2 separate regions of the Homo sapiens genome follow, and region 2 is reported to be linked to region 1. Evidence: microRNA targets listed by miRTarBase, many of them from high-throughput screens and not tested one by one. Region 1 holds a microRNA gene; the other region holds the end of a gene's coding sequence.

The links. Region 1 holds the annotated microRNA hsa-miR-4649-3p (UCUGAGGCCUGCCUCUCCCCA, at 1,460-1,480, opposite strand). A microRNA usually pairs through its seed, bases 2 to 8, with sites in the 3' UTR of a target mRNA and lowers its output. Matches are read on the target gene's strand: a 7mer-m8 pairs with bases 2 to 8, a 7mer-A1 pairs with bases 2 to 7 and ends in A, and an 8mer does both.
Region 2: the mRNA of TFCP2L1 is a reported target of hsa-miR-4649-3p. The part of its 3' UTR that is shown has no 7-base or 8-base seed match.

The regions. Positions count from the first base shown.
Region 1 is chr7:44,109,278-44,112,370 of GRCh38, reverse strand. MIR4649 (microRNA 4649) reads right to left here and starts at 1,522; the gene lies at 1,459-1,522. It overlaps AEBP1 (AE binding protein 1), which reads right to left. Exons shown (of 21, transcript NM_001129.5): 9 at 3,030-3,083; 10 at 2,247-2,356; 11 at 2,025-2,164; 12 at 1,562-1,646; 13 at 1,314-1,458; 14 at 1,132-1,217; 15 at 741-864; 16 at 321-517; 17 at 50-229.
Region 2 is chr2:121,221,747-121,224,839 of GRCh38, forward strand. It overlaps TFCP2L1 (transcription factor CP2 like 1), which reads right to left. Exons shown (of 15, transcript NM_014553.3): 15 at 1-2,641. The coding sequence ends at 2,595. Among named protein-coding and RNA genes, the nearest start is that of TFCP2L1, 62 kb to the right of the region's middle.

The DNA of each region.
Region 1 (3,093 bases):
CAGGGTCCAGCTGCTCCCTCCTGCCCTTTCAGCCAGGCTGTAGCCTCACCGTGGCATCTGGCGAAAGGTAGCGTTCAGGGATGGGCAAGTTATTGTTGGGGACCCGGTAGGGGACCCATTTCCTCTCCTCAGCTCCCCAGAGCACAGAGTTGAGATCCGGGAAATCTTCAAAGATGTCAAAGCCCTCCTCAGTCCACAGTCCCAGCGCCCAGTTCCCAAACTCTGAGCCCTGTGGGGAGCCAGCAGGGTAGGCATCGGCTACCCACACCCCCACAACCCCCAGCTGCCTGGACCCTGGCCAGCCTCACCCTTCAACCCACCATCTGCGCTGCCACCTCGTAGCCATCAGGGTTCAGTGAGGGCACCAGGTGGATGCGTGTGTCCTGCACCAGGCTGCGCACACGTGGGTTCCCATCGCGGTACTCTCGGCACAGGTACTGCATGAGCAGCAGCAACAGCTCTCGGCCCAGCACCTCGTTGCCATGGATCCCAGCAGTGTAGCGGAACTCGGGCTCCCCTGCAAGGGCGGGAGCCTCAGTGAGCACTCAGTCTCCCGAGGCCCAGGGCAGCTGAGGAAGGACCCAGACCCACCTCATACCCGAGGGTCTGGGGGACAGCTGGGGCTCCTAGGGCCCTGTAAGACAAGCCAGAATCCCCAGAGAGGCTCCGGAACAGGCGGGAGGCAGTGAGCTCTGCACATCAGCAGCAGAGGCCAGCTGCTGGCCCCCACAGACCCTCACCCAGTTCATGCTCCCCAGGGTTGTCTGAGATCTCCATGGCATAGATCTTGAGGCCTCGTGAGCTCTTGCCCAGGCTGTAAGTGCGGGTGATGGTGGGGCACTCCTCGTTCACCACCTTCATGAGCTGGGGCAGAGGGGGAGGACGTGGAATCAATCATGCAATCCGTCCCCCGCTGACCATGCCCCTTCCACTTCCAGGGCCTGCTCTATGGCGAGGGACGGGCATGACCCCTTCACGCAGCCCCCAGGTACTGGCCTCCTTCCTAAGGTGAGGGACAGCCAGCATCCCTGGAACCAGTAGGGACTGGGCCCAGTGACAGAAGCACCAGGCACACACTCCCGTCAGCCACAGACAGGTCCCACCCCCAGCCCCAGGATATATGCTCCCAACCTGGCGCATGTCCTTGTAGCTGTGGTGCCGGAAATCCAGGTCATCGGTGGCCACCACCTCATTCTGTGCGTAGTAGCTGTAGACAGCTGCAAGGGAGGCGGGGTTGTCTTTAGCTGGGTGCCGGCTGGCCCACCCTAGCACCCCACCTCCACTCAGAGCCCCTGCCAGCCCTCCACACTCACGGGCCACAGAGCACCCCAGCACCTCCAGGCGCATGCACAGGCTGCCATTCCAGGTGAGTGGGTAGATGCGGATGAAACGAGCCACCACCGGCTCTGGGAGCTCACTCAGCACGGGTGTGTCCTTGTCCACGTTCCCATGAAAGGTCTGGGGAGAGGCAGGCCTCAGAGCAGTACTGCCAGCCCCTCTGAGAGCCCACCCCTCGCCCAGACAATGGGAGCAGAGCCAAGAGCCTGGGCATGGTGCCCACCATTTCCTCATAGCCGTTGGTGTACATCACCCATGTCTGGCTGTCATTGCTGAAGCCCACGAAGAAGGTGGTCACAAAATCGTCACTGTGGAGTGGACAGTGGTCAGAGCAAGGGTCTTCCCCCTCCCAGGCCCTCAGGTGGCCTGAGCCTCCCTCTTCCGAGCCCCAAGAATTTAAGAGCTAGCAGGGTGGTGCTGCACGGCCCAGGTGTTGAGCCTGGGTCCTATGCCCGTCACATAGCCATGGGCAGGTGATCTGTCCCTAAACTCATGTGCTATCAGGACACAGGGGCTGACTGACCAGGCTGAGGAGTGGGGATGGGCAGGGTGAGTCCCTCACTGATCTTTTTGGCCTTCTTTGGCTGGGCCAAAGAAGGGCCCACTGGAATCTCCTTAATGGGACACAGAGCCATGCCTATGTAGCCACTCCCCTCTGCCAACTATCCATGAGCCTGGCCACGCACTGGATGCTGGAGTCTCTGCCCTGGGTGATGACGCCTGTGAACCGGGTAGTCCTCCTGGTGTCCACCTCTATCCACTGGGTCCTGGCATCGTCCTCGGCACACCACGCACCATCATAGTAGTCGTCCTCAGTGGCACCGGTCTGTCCAGGGGGCAGGGGAGGCTGAGCATGGGCGGAGGAGTCCCTTATCCCAGTTGGGAGATGGGCCCATCCCAATGCCCACCTGCATGTTGAGCCGGCCGCGCTGTGCCCCCAGGCCGTGGCGCAGCATGGAGGAGGCTCGGATCTGGTTGTCCTCAATACGGTGTGACTCCATCCCAATGGGGGGACACTCTGAGGACGCGTACCCCAGAATGGTGGCTCACTAGCTCCATCCTTCCCTCCACCAAACCCAGAACCAAGGAGCCCAGAGCCCACTCCCGGCACATCGGGGGCACAGTCAGAGGGCAGCTCTGGTCAGCTGGTGGCTCCCTGGTGCCCTGCACCAGCCCACCTGGAATCGACTCAAAGCCAGGCCAGGAGCTGTTTCCAATCCCAGCCTGTGCTTCCCCTCCCTGGGCCTCAGCTGCCCCATCTGGAGAACGGGCTGACCATGCCCAGCTCTCAGGGGACACACGTGAAATCACAGGTAGAGCTCCCCCAGGGCGCAGCCACAGATGTCATCCAGATGGGGACCGTCTGCACAATGGCCCTGCAGGGATACCTGTGAAGGTACCTGAGGTCCTCACTCCCCACCAAGGCCCCAGGTCCTCCCCCTACCACGCCCAGCCACTAGGGGCCCTGGGGAGCTGCCACCCTCCTGAAGCAGGCCAGCCTGGGGTCCAGGGCTGGGGCAGCCAAGCGAGGCTATCCTGGGCTCCCGGGGCCCCTCCCTTCTGGGTCCCAAGAATCTGAGTAGGAAAGGGTTCCGGGGACCTGGGTCCTGTTTGTGACATTGGGCCAGTCACTTGTCCCAGCACCCCCATCCTGTGGCCCCCACCCTCACCCCCTTGTGCCCCCCACTTACTGACTTTCTCCGTAGGCGTCCACTCCTCCTCCAACTCCTCGCCCTTTCGGGGCTCTAGGGACAA
Region 2 (3,093 bases), not on the chromosome of region 1:
ACGTATCTTGGAAATCATCAAAGTTAAAAAGTTTTGTGTCTCAAAGGACACCAACAAGAAACTGAAAACAATCCACAGAAGGGGAGAACATTTTTACCAGTCATATACCTGATAAAAGACTGGCGTCTAGAATATACAAATAGCTCACCCAACTCAATAATAAAAAGAAGGCTCATCCCTGGTAGTCTAGTGGTTAGGAAAACAGAAAACTTAAAAAAAAAAAGACAACTCAATTAAAAATAGGCAAAGGACCTGGATAGACCTTTCTCCAAAGAAATACGCATGGCCCGTAAGCACAGGAAAAGACACTCAGCATCAGTTGCCATCAGGGGAATGCAAATCAAAACCACAAGATAGCATTTCATACTCATTAGGATGCTAAAAGCAAAAAGACAGATAATAGCAAGTGTTGATGAGGATGTAGACAAATTGAAACCTGGATACATTGCTGGTGGGAATGTAAAATGGTACAGCTGCTATAGAAAACAGTCTGGCAGTTTCTCAAAAAGTTAAAACACGGAGTTACTGTAAGACCTAGCAATTCCACTCCTATGTATATTGCTAAAAGAAATGAAAACATATGTCCACACAAAATCTTGTAGAAATATGTTCATAGCAGCATCATTCAGAGTAGCCAAAAAGTAAAAACACACAAATGTCCATCAACTGATGAATCAATAAACAAATGTGGTCTATCTATACAATGAAGTATTATTCAGCAATACAAAAGAATGAAGTACTGATACATCCTCAACTTGGACGGCCCTAGAAAACATTCAGTGGAAGAAGCCAGTCACAAAAGAGATATCACATGATTCCAGATATATGAAATGTCCAGAGTAGGTTAATCTTACATAGAAAGTAGATTCATGGCTGCCTTGGACTGCAGGAGTTAGGAAAGCAGGAGTGACAGACCAAGGGTACGGGGTTTTACTGGGGGTGATGAAAATGTACCAACGTTGACTGTAATTCTGTGAATTGATGGTGGTTCTGTGAATACAATTGGACACTAGCAATGGGTAAACTGAATGGCATGTGAATGACATCTCAATAAAGCTGTTAGTTAACCCACTCCCCGCTTCTCCTCTAAAGAAGGAAGAGGAATCAGGAGCCTGTCCTCACTCTGTTCTGTAGGAATGCCACGGCTATTACCCAACATAATGACTAACAGAGCCCCTTTTATTCCGAGATGTCCTGGTTTATATGATAAATTTATATCGCTACCCTATCACTATGTGCTACCATGCAGGTGACTTTGCCCCTCTGAGCCTTGGTTTCCTCATCTATAAAACAAGTTCTCCCCATTGTAGACCCTGTTTTATTCTGGTAGTCCTTCAGTCTAGCACTTCATTCCACAGAAGCTCCATTTAGAAGCTATGACATCCCATTCAGGTGGTCAGAGGGTTCCCCATGAACCTAAATTAACCAAGAGCTGAAGCCCTGGGCCAGTAGAGATCACTGGATCCCAGGAACCAGAGGCAAGACAAAGACGAATTTCTGAGTCTACCACAGTTACTGACACTCAAATTTCCCGATAGTTAGGCCATTAAGAAAGATGATGCACCCATTCTGATGCAGGCAAAATATCCTAAACATAGCCTCTACAAACAAAGATAAACATGTAAGTGAGGGGCACTCAGAGAAAACACATCGCTCCTGTGGCAAGTTTAGCAGCGGTTCAACAAGGTCTTCTCTAACTTTCTATAAGTCCATCCAAGAGGGCCTGGTATTGTGGTGGTCAAGGTCATCTGATGACACCTAGGAATGGAATACTCATTCCTAATCCTCCTTACCCGTGATTGCCAGGAAATAAAATAGTCTTTTTCTATTACCATCCCCCTAACCTCCCCACAAAGGGCCTCAGAACTAATGTCTCTGAGAAAGGCCGTGCACATACATTGTGGCATCTACCATGCCAATGCGCCAGTGCAGAGACAGGAGCACATCTTTGGGTTCCGCAGCAGCAGATCCTTAGAAACAACGTAGAGAAGAAAGAGGTAGAAGGCACAGAATAGCCCCACTCCCATCAATTCATCCAAGAACAGGAAAGGCGGATGCTCACCAGGGTCACTGAGAAGGGAAGCAAACCTGAAACAGGAGAATGAGGGCAAACTGCTCCCATCAAGTCGGCAGTGCTGGCCATGCAGCCAACTCCCAGAGGAGGAGGTAAAGGTACCAGCTTCCAGGGTGAAGCAGAGCTTTCTCTGGAGGCAGGAGAGTGGTCAGAAGGGACCAATACAGGCAGCACCAAGATACCCAATCAGCTTCCAACTAAGGGATGAGGGATTTCAGAGCAGACGTCTCCACTGTTTGCCCTTTTAGAACGTCAGGGTTGGACCAATAGAAAAGAACAAGGAACCATTCAAAATCTGGAGGCCAAGAGGAAGGGAGAAAGGAGCCACTGGCTTTCTGTACACCGTACTTGGTGTCCACAGGCTTCTGCTGGTTGGTGCTCTGTAGCTTTCACAGACTGGGCAGGGTCCCTCCTGGCCTCAGCTTGCCTGGTGAGGCCACAGCTTACAGTGGGGCAATGTCTACATCCACGGGGATCCACAGGGCTGGGAGCTGGAGACAGGTATGAGGTCCACTGCTGCTCAGAGTCCACATTTCAGGATGATGTGGTAGCCATCATTGCTCTCAGCTGCAAGAGAGAAACACTGGGTGTATTTCACAGGAAAAAAGGTGCAGTGCCACAGTATTGGGGAGTCCCAAAAGGCACGCTGTTAGGGTATCAGCAAAGACCACCAAAATAGGGCTGCATACAGCAAAGCGTGCTGGCAGAAGCAGGGATCTCACATGCCCTGACATCTGCCTCGTTTAGTGTCTTTTTAACAATAGGTCTTTCTACCATAGCCCCAGGCCCAAGGATGAAAACCTACGTTCCAAGGAGGATTTGGACAACTGTGGTTCTCAGGGATATTATGGCCCCCAAGGCCCCAAAGACACTTGGTGGTGGCTGGGCGTGGTGGCTCACGCCTGTAATCCCAGCACTTTGGGAGGCCAAGGCAGGCGGATCTCGAGGTCAGGAGATCAAGACCATCCTGGCTAACACAGTGAAACCCCGTCTCTACTAAAAAAATACAAAAAAATTAG